Linked DNA regions of Homo sapiens. The protein of the gene in region 2 purifies or fractionates together with the protein of the main gene of each other region. This does not show direct contact. Each region holds a gene or a part of one and is shown on either strand. Other genes may lie near its edges.

Region 1 (3,500 bases), on a different chromosome or scaffold from region 2:
CCTGCCTCTGTGGATCGGTCTGTCCTGAACATTTCATAGAAATGGGATTGCACGCCATGTGGCCTTTTGTGTCCGGCGTCTCTCACTGAGTGTGACGTCCTCAAGGTGCATCCACACAGTGGCCTGTGTCAGAGCCTCGTCCCTGTTCATGGCTGAGTCATGTTCCAGTGCATGGAGGGACCGCGTATTTGCCCATTTATCCCCTGGAGGACATTTGAGTGCCTTCATGTGTGGGCTGTTGGGAACGGAGCTGCCGTGACCGTCTGTGGACGTGTGTTTATGTGGATGATGTGTTCCCTTCCCTCAGTTGCATGCTACGCCTGGGAGCAGAATTGCTGGGTCCCAGGGTGACTCTGGCTTTGCCCTCTGAGAAGCGTCCAGAGAGTTTGCCCCAGTGGCCGCCCTATGGGGCAGGCCCAGCAGCCGTGCAGCCGTGGCTCCTGCCAGTGGCCTCCCTGGGGCCTTTCAGCTGAGGGGCCATTGATCCCGCTTTCGTAGCCCTGCTTTCAGGGGTAGGGCTCTTGCCCTTAGATCTTGGTTTGCCACTTGCCCTGTCTCCCGCTGTGATCTCTTCCAGCTGTGGCCCTCTCTGAGAGTCCATATTCATATTTGGGCTTAGATCTCCATCAGCTTCTGAAACACGCATCTGCAAACTGCAGACTGATTTTGTCGATAAAGTTTTATTGGCACATACCCATTTCTGCCATGTTGCCCATGGTGCTTCAGCAGCAGCAGCAGAGCCGAGTGCTGGAGACAGTCCGTGTGGTCGGGAAGGCTGGGTGTGCTCTCTGGCTCTCTGCAGAAGCAGATTGCTGCTGTCTAATCTGGAAGTTTCCAGGGAGTGGGATTTTTGGGGTTTGTGTCTCTTTTTCCAAGTCCCCCTAGGTGTGCTTATCCCAGCCCAGATTGAGAGGCTGGGGGCAGGGCAAGGGGAGGGCTGAAGTCGGAGTCCGGGGCAGGGAGCGTTGCTCAGAGGGGACAAGCAAGGGCTGAGTCTCCACTCTGGGGGGCCTGGGAGGGCCCCGTGGCTCCCAGAGCCCAGGGCAAGGCTCCCTTCTTTCCCATCTGGGTCCCACCCAGTATGTCCCCTCCCCAGTCCCTCAGCCAAACTGTGGCTGGTCATGTCGGCCTGTGCGCCCCGGGGACGGGGACACAGAGCATCAGGAGGGGAAAGGATGGCCCCCCCACAGTGTCTGCCCCAAAGGGTGTTCACATGTGTGTGCAAGCACGTGTCTGTGCGGTTGGCCTTCCTTTGTGACAGGGCAGCAAGCTGGGGCCTGATGCCACCCGCCGCCCAGGGTTCCGTGAGGGGGAGGCGGCTCGTGTTGGGGCACCATGTAAACTGTTGAGTGCGGCAGCTCGGGGGCCACACGCCGTCCTTAGCACCGGGTGTGGTATCTGCTCTTGATGATGTTTGATAAGCATTTTTCGGACGAAAGAGAGAAGCCGGCGGGGCAGAAACCGAGTCTGGAGCTGCACACTGCAGGCGATGCCGCTGGTTGCAACGTCCTGTGACTGGGCTTCCTGCCTCCCGGTGTGTCTGGAGAATTCGAGGCAGCGAGTGCTGGGGCTGTTGGTTAGTTCTGTCGTCGTGCTTGGTCGTGCTCGGCGCTGCACTGCCCTCCTGTGGGTCCTGGGTTTGAAGTGTGTGTGTTCTACACGTGCTTGTTCCCCACACCGTCCCCTCCCCACCTCTAAGAAGTGAATCGAAGCCCGGCCTCCCCGGCACCCTGCAGACCGCACCGCCGGGAGGCTTTGCTTGTGGGGCCTTGTTCGGAGGAACCACACCGCCAGGCGGCCTCGCGTTTTTCTGACACGTGTTCACACGGAACTGTCAGTGGTCCTGACTGCACAGCCTGCGGAATGCCGCCCGGGCCAGCCGAGGCCTGGAAGAGGGGCCGTCACAAGCTTTCTGGTGGATGTGTGGCCCCAGCGAGCTCTCGACGTCTCCCCTGCCCGCCCTCGCAGGCCAATGCGCTCCTGATCCGGGAGGTGGACGTGGAGAAGGTGACCACCTTCGAGCATCAGTACGTCAGTGCCATCAAGACCCTGTGGGAGGACCCGGGCATCCAGGAATGCTACGACCGCAGGCGCGAGTACCAGCTCTCCGACTCTGCCAAGTAGTAAGTGCGGCCGCACCGCTGGCGGCCTGGGGACGGCAGCTGCGGGCCGGTGCCTGGGACCCTTCGGGAAGGCCTCCGCGGCGTCTGTGGTGCCCCCTGCCTGCTCGCCGGGGGCAGGGATGCGGTGGGCCCGGGCCACCTGGCCGGATGGAGGGACCAGAGCAGATCCCTGGAGGGGCCACGCCTTGGCAGGAGCCGGTGGACTCTGGTGTGACACTGGCCTGCTTGTATGCCTGGCCCTGCCGCTGCCCTCCCTGGGTCAGGAGTGAGCTCCTGGCCACCCTCGGTGCTGGAGCCCGGCCTGTGGCCTGTGGGGGAAACCCAGGGTCTCCTAGGAGGGCCGTGGGATGGGAGGTAGACACAACCTGGGCCGTCTCGCTCCTGCCTGGGACATCGTCCCCAGAGCCACGTCTCCCACTAGTGACTGGCTGTGACCTTGACTGATGTCAGGGTTCTCCCAGTCTCTGGGCCTGGGATAGGGGGTGACTTGTGTGCTGACAGGTGGCCGGGCCATGGCCGCAGGTGGAGGCCCCCGCGTGGCAGGCTGTGCACTGCTGCCCTCCATGCTTGGCAGGCAGAGGCCCCGGCCCTCCCCCAGCACCGGGAGAGACCCTAAGGCGACAGGGACAGGCCTGTCCCCCGCCCCTCCTGCCCGTCCTCTGTGTGTTCCCTGCCTCTGGGAGGTTGTGGGAGGGCCCAGATAACCAAGCACTTGGAACAAAACGCCAGGGCCTCCTCGCGGTGCCGGAAAGGTCTGAGCAGGCACCCGGCCTCTTACAACCCCCACCCCAGGCAGACCACTCGAGGGGCGCCCCACTCAGGACTGCCCAGGGCGTCAAAAACGGGAAACTGTCCCAACCCAGAGGGCTGGGCAGGAAAAGGCATGAGGGGAACCAAGGAAGCCGGAATCAAGCGTGGACTTCAGTAGCTGCGCTGTGTAGACACTGGCTCATTGCTCGTGGTGGGTGCCGCACCCACGTACAGGGAGCAGCAGGGAGACGGGCACGGGGATCTGCTGGGACCTCTGCAGCCTCTGCAGCTGCGACTCTCCTAATGATGCGCTTGTTTGTGAAGCCTCATCCCTGGGGCCAGCCAGGCCTCTCTCGGGAAGTCCCCTGCCCTGGGTCACCGTCTCCCTCCTTGGTGGCCGTCTCTGGACAGCTCTACTACAAACCCCCCGAACCAGCTGGAGTCCTCGTCCTGGGACTTTCTCTTGTGCTGGGTCATTTCTGTCCCCTGAGACCCCAGAGAGGATAGAGGTTGGGAGGCTCGTATCCCGACCCCAGGGTCTCCATTGGCCCGAGCCCTCCGGGCTGCTTCAGACACTGCCGTAGGTGGCGCAGTGCGCGGTCCACCCCCTCCTGGTGGCTTTCCGTC
Region 2 (3,500 bases):
ATTTTTTTTTTTTGAGACAGTTTCGCTGTTGTTGCCCAGGCTGGAGTGCCATGGCATGATCTCGGCTCACCGCAACCTCCCCCTCCCGGGTTCAAGCAATTCTTCTGTCTCAGCCTCCCGAGTAGCTGGGATTACAGGCATGTGCCACCACGCCTGGCTAATTTTGTATTTTTAGTAGAGATGGGGTTTTTCCATGTTGGTCAGGCTGGTCTCAAACTCCCGACCTCAGGTGATTTGCCCGCCTTGGCCTCCCAAAGTGCTGGGATTACAGGCGTGAGCCACCGCGCCCCATCCCAAACTACACATTTTTAAGAGCTCCACTTTCTCCCTTCATATGCTCTGTTCCCTCTCCCCAGAAAACTTATTCTAATGAGGAAAAAAGAGGGAAGTCACTCAAGAAACTATATAGGCTTTAAAAGGGTAGAGAGCAGGGAAATAAGGCAAGAAAAGAAATAAACTCCCAGACTGGAGAGAAAAAAGTAAAACTCTTTGCAGATGACATGATCTTCTATGTAGAGAATCCTAAGAAACCACTTAAAAACTATTAGAACAATGGGGGAAACTATAGTTCAACAAATGGTGCTAGGACAACTGGATAGCCGCATGCAAACGAAATAGAGAATGACTGTTAGTGGGCGTGGAGTTTCTCTTTGATGTGATGAAAATGTTCTGAAATTGGATAATGATATTGGTTGCACAACTTTGTGAATATACTAAAGGAGTGCACCCTGTAAAAGAATAAATTTTCTGGTATATGAATTATATCTCAATAAAAAACCAAAACAATTCAGTCTTTCAACACTAAGCATCATGTGATTTAATTTTCATGATTCTGCAACTAGCGCCAGCCAAGTAATTTCTGCATCTATGTGTAATAATTTAAAATAGAAATGGATGCCAGAAAGAAAACAAAGTAGAAATAAGCTAGAAGAACCCAAGGGCAAAGGAACTAAAGAGTAAAGATGAGGGGCCAGGTGCAGTGGCTCACACCTGTAATCCTAACACTTTGGGAGACTGAGGTAGGTGGATCGTTTGAGCTCAGGAGTTCAAGACCACCCTGGGCAACATAGTGAGACCCCATCTCTACAAAAAAAAAAAAAAAAAGGAGTAAAGATGAGGGAAAAGGGAGTGAAAGTAGCCATCCCACAATCCCTGTATGAGTATTCTTGTCAATGTATAAACATGTTCATTGTTCATAACACTCAAGTTGGTAAAATCAAAGTATGATAAAAATTTTTAATAAAATGCTTGATACCGTAATTGTGTTTAAAAACTTTAGATATTAACATTTAACTATAGTATTTAATAGGGGAAAAAAGGGGCAGGGGTGCATGTGCAAGGGTGCAGACAAGGTTTATGGGCGGTATGAAGGATCAAGAAGCTGGAGTGGGCTGAGAAGGTAAAAGTGCCTTGGACATTAAAAAAGCCTTTTAAGGTATGATTAGAACAAGAACAAGAATCAGGAAGTGATCGGCCCACTCATGGGCTCTTGCTGCAATATTAACAGAAAGCAGAACTACTCAGCTTCCTCCTTTTCCTCAAAGAAAATGCCCCAGAGATGGCAGAAGGGAGCCCAGCTGTGTTCAAGAGGGGATTAAAACCACAGGCTGAGGAGCTCTCCCAGGGCCTGCCACAGGCGAGGTTCAGGAAATCTCTGGCCGGACACATGGATGAAAGAACTTGCATTTCTGCTCAAAGAACTGTATTTGGTGGCTTTTAAGAAATTGTGAAGAATATGAAAAGTATTGGAACACTGGAAGCAGGCAGATGTTCTCATTTTCAAAAAAGCAGGGAAATGGATTCTGAATAGGAACAAAGGCCTGCTTCATTCCCTTGATAAGTTTCTAGACTCAGTAATTAAGGAAAAGGGAAGTGAAGGCATTCACTAATAGGCAGCCTGGTTCATCTATTTTTAAAAAAATAAAATCTCACACAGAAAAACTATGGGTCCTATTTAGTGGTTCTCACACTCATCCAGATACTGGGGCTCCTGAAAATCAATCTTCTGTTCCAAATATTATACCCTTTACAGATCTCTCTAAAATATTGAGATATTTAATTTTTACAGAAAATTAGACTATATTTTCAATATACAATATAAGATCACACCTACAGATGCTAGTGTTCATTTATTCAAATGATCTTGATTTCAGGGTTGGGGCCAGCCATCACAGAAGAGAGTCAACAGGCCACAGCTCTGAGTGACAAGGGCTGTAACACTAGAAACACAGGGTGGCTGGGGGCATAGGAGGGACCCCCTCATTCAGGCTTGCGGGTTGGAAAAGGCTGCCTCCCTGAGAATGCAGCCTAAAAGCTGAGCCCTGAGGAATGAGCAGAGAATTAGCTGCCCAAAGAGGGCCAGGGAGTGAGGGTGGGGAGGTGTCACCCATGAGGCCTCGGTTTCTGGGGTAACTGGGGAGTACAGCTGTTCACTGAGATGGGGATCCAAGAAGAGGAAGGATGGGGCATAATGATAAGTTTAGATTTAGACCTGTCATGTTTGAGTGGACACCAAGGTGGCGATGTCCATGAGGGGTAAGACATGGGTCTGGAGCTCAGGGAGATATCTGGGCTGGTCTGTTGACTTGGGAGTGTCAGCATTTAGTAGCCAGCATCTGGGAAGTAGAAGTCCTTGCACAGGACTCTTAAGTGAGAGGAAGCAGAGCTTGTGGAGACCCTCCGGGGAAAGTACCAAAGAGGTGGGTAATTGCCTGGGAGGGTAGTGGCTCAGTGCTGTCTCAGATCTCTTTAGGTTGCAAGTGACAGAAATCCAACCAAAGCTAGCTTAGATAAAAAGATAAGAACGTTTTCCTGAAACCCATCAGACCAGGATGTGCAAGCTTCAGGCTTGGCCCAGGACTGCAGGAGACACACCAGGACTCTGTTGGCTCTGTGGCCCTCCTCATGTTGTGTTCCTTCTCAGGGGTGGGCAGGCGGCCACCTCCATTTCCAGCCTCGAATTCTGCTGGCTCAGCAGCCCCAGTAAAAGTCTCAGGCTTGAGTCTCATTGGTTTGACCCTGACCATATGCCCATCCCTGAACCAATCCTTAGGGGCAGGGGCATGAAATGTGGGGAGTGGGGAGGTCAGCCCCACCAACCACGTGGCCTGAGAGCTGGGGAAGGCAGCTCCTGAGGATGCTGCTACCAAGAAAAGGGGATACGAGGCAAGTAAAGCAACGATGACCCCCACAAAAGCCAGGGAGAGAGGTGGTGGTCAGTAGTGTCAGATGCTTCCAGGAAAAGGACTGAAACAGAACCAGTAGATTAGCCTTTGGGAGCCAGGTGACCTTGCCAAGAGGTGTGCCTGTGAGTGGTGGTGAAGGAAGCCAGATGGCGCGGGTTGAGGAATGAGTGGGATGTGAGGCGTCAAATTCTCAGCAGCTAGGCCTGGGGGAAGGAGGCCTGGCCACAAGCATCACAGGGGTTTGGGTAAAGACAAGCACAACCTCAGCAGAATGAAAAGTGGACAGAAGGGAAGCCATGGAGAGGGAGCAGCTGG
Region 3 (3,500 bases), on a different chromosome or scaffold from region 2:
GTGGTAAGCTCTTCTGTCAGATGTGTGAGCAGGTCTTTGTGTTCAAATCTAATTAGAGCCTATTTGATACTTTTTAACACTATGCAGAGGTTCTGAAAATGAAAATAACATGGAAATCCTAGGCTAATCATCAGATCATTTTATAGTCTTCCTCCTACAGGATAGAACTGGGAGTGTTGGAGTGAGTCATCCTGTTTTGTTTTGTTTTCATTTTGTTTAAATCATTGTTTGTGTGATGGGTGTGTCCCAAAGAGTACTCAAAATCTCTCTTGGCAAATGTGAATGACTTCGCAGCTGGGCTCTAAATCAGTTCATTATGAACCATGGAATATCTTGGTGATGCGGCCTTTCTGCTCTTATAGAATTCTCTAGGCTGTTGCATAATTTTGTCTCTATTAAGCAGTGAGCAGTTGAAGAAGTATCCTTAATATGCCTGTCTGGAGAACAATTTCAGTATTGTTATCTCCTCCCTGTTACAGGGAAACTTAATAGGTGTAAATGTGGATTTTCAGGATGGTAAAGACCTGACGATGAATCGATTATGGAATATATTAAGGGATGTAGAAATCTGTACTTCTGAGCTGTAGTTGTGTGCATGTGTATGTGTGTGTTGGGGGAACGGGGAAGACACCATTGATATCCTGTTAGAGGCAGAGATTGCAGTGTGGTAGGTTAATAATAAATATTAAATATCCCAATAATAGGGTAGCAAAAAAGAAGGAAGTGAGAGATCCCCGTTTGCTGACTAAAATAGGATCTAGCATATTATGCTTTTAATACAGTACATTTTTTAGGTACACAAGAATTCCTGACTGGTTCTTTTAAATATTTTTCTGCCAGTATTAATATCTCCATTAAAATACATATCCAAGCTCCTATAGTATTTCTTTTATGTATAGGATTGATAAAGTTTCCGTGAACCAATGTCTATATAGAACCGAGAGTCACCTGTTCATGCATTTCGGAATCATTCCTGAGTTACAAGTATATTGGCTTTGGAGTTAACCAAATAACTTCTGTTTAAGAATGAGGCTTGTTTATCAATCAGTTGCCCCCAATAACTCTAAAGCAAAGTGCCTAAAAGCATGCTACAATATATGACAGTAAGTTACCAAGATACAAGGCAGTTACTGTCAGAATTTTAGCTATGATATCTTTATCTGTATATCTTTATGTCTGTGCTTGTTTGTTACATAATCCCTGGATGTAGTATTTTAAACATACTGCATATTTTGGGAGCAGATCTATTCTAACACTTCTGATTTTTTTGAATGTTGTGTCAAGACAAAAAAATATTTTGAGGGCTTCCCTACTATATGCTGGGTACCAGAGTATCTAAAAAGACACAAAAATGGGGAAAAAAATCAACTCTGCCCTAGAAGACCTTATAAACAAGATATGCTTTTGGTCAGAATAAGCCATAGGGGGAAAGGTAAGCCTTTGTTATGTAGGTTGTCATTTCTCTTCTTTAATTTGCCATCCAGTAAAATAAAATTTGCATTTATCAATTACACAAGAGATGTAAGAAGCAAATGTGAATTTATTTCTGATGTTTACATTATAGCTAGAGGAGGACAAGTGTTTATCAATACACATTTTCCACAAGATAAATGCATTATATATATATGAAGAAGTATATGTCATGATGTAATACTTATCAATTTACCACTTCAAAATTATCAAAATAGAAAAGAAAGTAGAATCCTTTGGCAACTCATCAGCTAATTCAGTTCAACCGAATTGAATCTGGTTCTTCAGTTATCTGAACATTACAGATCATTTATTCCATTTTTCCTCAGACATAGCTAATAGTGACTAGATTTTTATATAAAAGTATATTATGTTAATTAGAATAAAATGGCATCGTTTTTATTATCATGTGTCATAATTAAAGTTCCCACAGTAACTTGACATTCAATGTACAGGTACTAAGAACGTCTAAAAATATTGTCCCAGTTCCTTTGATTCCTGTGGTGATGTCTTATGCTACTTTTAAATAATTACAAATTAAAATAATAAAGCTATCATTTTTTCATTAGGACTCCCTAATCACTTGTGAATCTTTTGAAAGTCTAGGTAATTCTATAAGATGAAAGTCAACTTGTACGGTGTTCCTTTCTGAGACCTCTAGTCAAGCCTGATGATAGTATGGGATCATGAGAAAAGTGCTGTTCATTAATTCCTTCATCCATATTAGCCACAGCTATCACTGTCTGTAATTAGGAAGTACTGTCAAAAAAATATTTTTTAATGTTGGGATGTAGTCTCATTACCCCTTTTTTTCCCCAGTTGTACTAATGTATGATAATGTCATTGCCTCTCAGCTTCCTTAATCATTAAGAAAATTCAGAACTACAGAATTCTAGTTTCCCCAGATTTTTTGGTTTTGGTGAGACAAAACTGAAATAAACTCCAGAAACATTTTGTTCTTGGTTTAGAAGTCTGATGTTCATAACTTTAATCCAAAGCAGACTTTGTTGTGCCTCCCTCCCTTGGTATATATTTGTGAGAAAAACCTAGGAATGGATTCTGACAGCTTTTCTTTCTATCCCAGGAAACTGTGGAAAATGCATTGCAGACCACAGACAAAAGCAGCTAAGGGAAGCATTTTAGATTATTGCTTTTGCTTTTTAATATTTCTAAAACCTTATAAATCTTCATAATTTTATGTAGGTCTGCTTTTGTCTGCCTAGATTCTCAGCCTTTCTATTGTTTGGGGAATGAATTTCTTTTTTCCTTCAAAGAAGGAAATACATTATCAAATAGTGGCTAGAATACCCAGGGTGGTAGAGCTGTGTTGATTTGCGTATTCCCTTTACTGTCTTATTGATGTGTGTATTCCCTTTGCTGTCTTATTTTCCCTGTGATAACACACCAGCATGGAATCCACTATTCTGCTGTAATCCTTTCATGGGTATGTTATTTCAGTGCTCCTGAAAGCCCAAAGCACACAATAAGACATGCTTATAACATATTTTAGTTTATCAGTGTGTATCCAAACACTGCCTTTTAATCTTTATTTTTCTGATTTTCTGTTTCATGAATATCTGAGCACTACTACAAAGATGTTTTCTCAGACATTGTCTCAATGACTGTCTTCCAGGCTAAGCTCTTTATAGAATCTCAAAGACTGAGACCTTTTTCTCCTCCATGTCCTCTTTGAATGTGAGCTTTGAATTTATTAATCATCTTGAAATGGTCATGAGGAATTATGTTATCATTTTATTAAAACGTCAAGATAGTTCTCCCTACCCTAGGCCCTCCTTGATCAAGGTGGATTCCCTGACCTTGGTTTCCATAAACATGTATTCATCCTTCAAACCTGATTTTTGAAGTTGCTCAATTGATAAAAGGAAAGCATAGACGTTTATAATACCTTAGCACTTTATACCCAAAACTTGCTGAAGCTGCTACTCATCAGAATCTACCAGCTGACCTCACCGTGGCGGGGACAGATCAGGTTTGCTGGTGTGCGTCATAACGATGAGGTTACAGGAATG
Region 4 (3,500 bases), on a different chromosome or scaffold from region 2:
CTGTATTCAGCTCCATTGGAAAGGTAAAATAATAGTAATAATTTTCTGTGTTTCGGATATGGAGCCTTGGTTGAGAAAGGCTGTCATGTCTATCTTTATACACATATTACCTCCGTTTTTCATCAGCTTTAGGAGGTAGGTATTATCCCCATTTTTACATTTGAGGAAACTAAGGCACAGGGTATCTCATTAACTTGCCTAACGGCATGCAGATTTCAAGTTATGGAGCCAGGGCTCCTACCCCAGGCAGGCTGAGTTTCCGGAGTCACCTTCACCACACTGCAGGTAATGCGCATCAAGGCTGGCTGGAGAACTTGTATATCAAGCACTTTTACAGAACTATATCCGTAACTCAGTTCAGCACAGTGTGTATACTGCATATACACAGCATAGCTTAGTTCAAGAATACAATATGGCCTCATTCTCTAGATCTCAGAAGAGTAAATAAAAAATACCAGAGGTGATTAACATTCAGAGCCATCACTGCCCCAGAATCACAGATATGGGCTGTTAGCAGAGAGACTGGGACTGCTAGGCATGGTTGGGGAAATATGGGACCACAGAGGAAAAGTTGAGCTCCAGTTCACAACTTAGTGTTACTGTAACACAACTCAAGACGCCAACATTCTAAACTTAACCTCGAAGAGATTCAAGAAGGTTAAACAAGATAACCTCTCATATTTATTCAAATTCTGGAGTTCTGTGAAATATCTGAATATTCTATGGGAAGGAAGTATCCAAATATCAAGGCCTGCCTTTTGACCACCTCTGACTTCCTGAATACAAAGTAATGGTTTATCAAAGACGACTGATTCAAAGCTGGTCATTTAGATATAAATTACACCAAAGATTTATGAATGGCTTACAACTCTTGTCAGTCCAGACATGTAGCTCCTGTGCGAGTTCAGGAATCACCAAAAAAGTTCGCCACCCTTGCCGTTTCTTTGATTTTAAAATGTCCCCAAAAATGTGATCTCCAATATACAAAATGTCTTTTCCCTTGGCTCCCAACAGGTCACAGATCGTATCAGAAGAACCTGAACCAACAGAGTGAACAATGAGAAAACTGTCCCTATATTAAAATCAGCATTCCAATAGTATTTAACCATTAAATACTATGATTCATTTTATTCTTATATGAGGAACAGACTAGGAAGAATAGACAAAGACTCACCATTCTCTTTTTACTGCCTTCTAAGACAAGGCCTTCAGCTCCACTGTGCTGACCAGAGCTCTTGCTCACCAAATCCAAGAGCAACAAAACTACATCCTCAGCTTAGTGAAAATAACCTTCAAAACAGCCACTGCCAATTTCATCACAAATCTGCCATTAAGCTGGCTTTACTCAACTGTTTATAACTCCAACATACTATGTACCTATACCCATGGAACTCCTTGAGAAACCCTTGAGAACATATTGAGAAGTACCCCCAAGTGATTCGAAGCACTGAGAAAAAGCCTCCAATAGGATTTAAAAAAAAAACTGATCATTTTAGTGAAAATCAGATTCATTAGGATATACTAACAACTGCTCAAACCCAGACTCCTATTGCATTAAGAGGTGACTAAACTATTTACCTTCAGTAGATGACATCTTAGACTACTAAACAGTATATGTGGCACTTTGCTGAGAGATTACCAAAGCTTTCACTGTGAGGTCTGAGCAAAGACATTAAATAAAGGGAAGTCTGTGACTTACCTCCTGAGTAGACGATACCATGCTGTAGGGGCCCTGTGTAGGTACCAATTTTCAGCTTGCCAGTTTTCTGTATGAAGAATATGGATTTTGTAATACTTTATCATCCTATCACAATCCTCCCCTCACCCCACAACCCTCCCATCCCACCCCCCACCACCAGTGCTACTTGGCCAGACAGCCAAATGAATGGCACTTACTCTTTTCAATTAGTGGGTTTGTTTGACTGTTTCAGTTAAGACCAAAACTCTTAATTTCAAAAGAGAGATACGGCTAATTAAAAAAAAAAAATTCCTGTTTCCTTATGTAGAGTAAGAGTGGGGGAAGGAGAAACATTAAGGACAATGTGCTAGCAAGACAGATCATTCTCATGACTTACAGTATCCACCTGACGCAGTACTGTGCCTTCTCCAAAAAAGAGTGGTTTCCGTGCATCCACCAAGATCAAGTCAAAGTAGGACTGCCATGGTCGATGGGAGCTCCCAGGCTGGTGAAGGAGAAACAGCAAAAGTTGAAACATCACTCCTTACCTTAAGGCATTACTATTTAATCTCACTCAGATGCAAGGAATATAAAAATACTAAGTATAGCCAGAAGATCCCACTATTTTATTTTTTAAAAAGGTATTGTGTCAGCCAGGCACAGTGGCTCACACCTGTAATCCCAGTACTTTGGGAGGCCGAGGCGGGCAGATCACAAGGTCCGGAAATCAAGACCATCCTGGCCAACATGGTGAAAACCTGTCTCTACTAAAACTACAAAAATTAGCCGGGCGTGGTGGCGGGCGCCTGTAGTCCCAGCTACTTGGGAGGCTGAGGCTCGAGAATCGCTTGAACCTAGGAGGGGGAGGTTGCAGTGAGCCGAGATCGTGCCACTGCACTCCAGCTTGGCAACAGAGCAAGACTCCATCTCAAAAAAAAAAAAAAAATTGTGTCTATGTATTATAAGCCATATCCTTTGGGAAGCAGACAAGATATAAATAATAAATAACTGTAATAACACATTCTATACATTAAATCATTTCATCTACTACTAAATTACAATACTTATTTTACAGCACTTTATGAAAGTGTGCTCACCTGAAATTTGCTAAAAGGAGCTCAAAAGAGCTAGGGAGAGATGCAAATCAATACCCAAGGGACAGATTAAGACAGAGGCAGGCATCAGAGCTAAAGTATACAAACTAACATGGAACTATTAGGAAATTTTACTGGTTACATTCTCAGAATGATGGCTCTAGGTACACACTGGCTTTTGGCTCACAGTGTAAGCTAATCACAATACTGAGTTATGCCCATTAAAATCATGACTATCCTGAAATGGAACCCTGGCATTAACCTTTTAAGACCAACCTGAAGGGCACTGCACACTGTGATTTCAGGTGTTCTCAAAACAGGGATTTGCTGATGTTTATTCACTAAAGTCTAGGACTAAAATTCTGTAAGTATGTGACTAAGTTGCAAGGAGTATTCCTTAAACCTAAGTGCAGCCGTACTGCAGAAATGAAGACTTCTCTGCTAAATATCAAGGCTGAGTGCTCTCTTGGCAAAAACTTAGCAACAACTAATACAAAATCTAGAAGTTGTCAAGAATACACATACATTTTCTGTTTCTGTTAATCAAATATCATCCACAACCTGAAAATTCCTTTCATTGCCACACAAACTTAATTTTGCATAGAACTTCTTGGGCATAAAATTATTCTGATCCCATCCTACTAAATATCACATGAATATCCCTTTTATTTCTGTCTATTAAGTATTCAAGTTGCGGACTCTAAATTAGCAATTTGATTTTAAATTCT

Evidence for each region. The genes of interacting proteins can lie anywhere in the genome.
Region 1: the proteins of EHD4 (region 2) and GNA11 fractionate together in Homo sapiens (co-fractionation; one large-scale study listed by BioGRID). This does not show direct contact.
Region 3: the proteins of EHD4 (region 2) and GNAQ fractionate together in Homo sapiens (co-fractionation; one large-scale study listed by BioGRID). This does not show direct contact.
Region 4: the proteins of EHD4 (region 2) and NT5C2 fractionate together in Homo sapiens (co-fractionation; one large-scale study listed by BioGRID). This does not show direct contact.

The regions. Positions count from the first base shown.
Region 1 is NC_000019.10:3,111,362-3,114,861, forward strand, and holds part of GNA11 (guanine nucleotide-binding protein subunit alpha-11), read left to right. Parts: intron 1-1,968; coding exon 1,969-2,123; intron 2,124-3,500. UniProt on the Homo sapiens protein: Guanine nucleotide-binding proteins (G proteins) function as transducers downstream of G protein-coupled receptors (GPCRs) in numerous signaling cascades.
Region 2 is NC_000015.10:41,966,058-41,969,557, reverse strand, and holds part of EHD4 (EH domain-containing protein 4), read left to right. Parts: intron 1-3,442; exon of another isoform or gene 3,443-3,500. UniProt on the Homo sapiens protein: ATP- and membrane-binding protein that probably controls membrane reorganization/tubulation upon ATP hydrolysis. Plays a role in early endosomal transport.
Region 3 is NC_000009.12:77,790,812-77,794,311, reverse strand, and holds part of GNAQ (guanine nucleotide-binding protein G(q) subunit alpha), read left to right. Parts: intron 1-3,500.
Region 4 is NC_000010.11:103,092,273-103,095,772, forward strand, and holds part of NT5C2 (cytosolic purine 5'-nucleotidase), read right to left. Parts: intron 2,184-3,500; coding exon 2,076-2,183; intron 1,767-2,075; coding exon 1,700-1,766; intron 1,038-1,699; coding exon 867-1,037; intron 1-866. UniProt on the Homo sapiens protein: Broad specificity cytosolic 5'-nucleotidase that catalyzes the dephosphorylation of 6-hydroxypurine nucleoside 5'-monophosphates.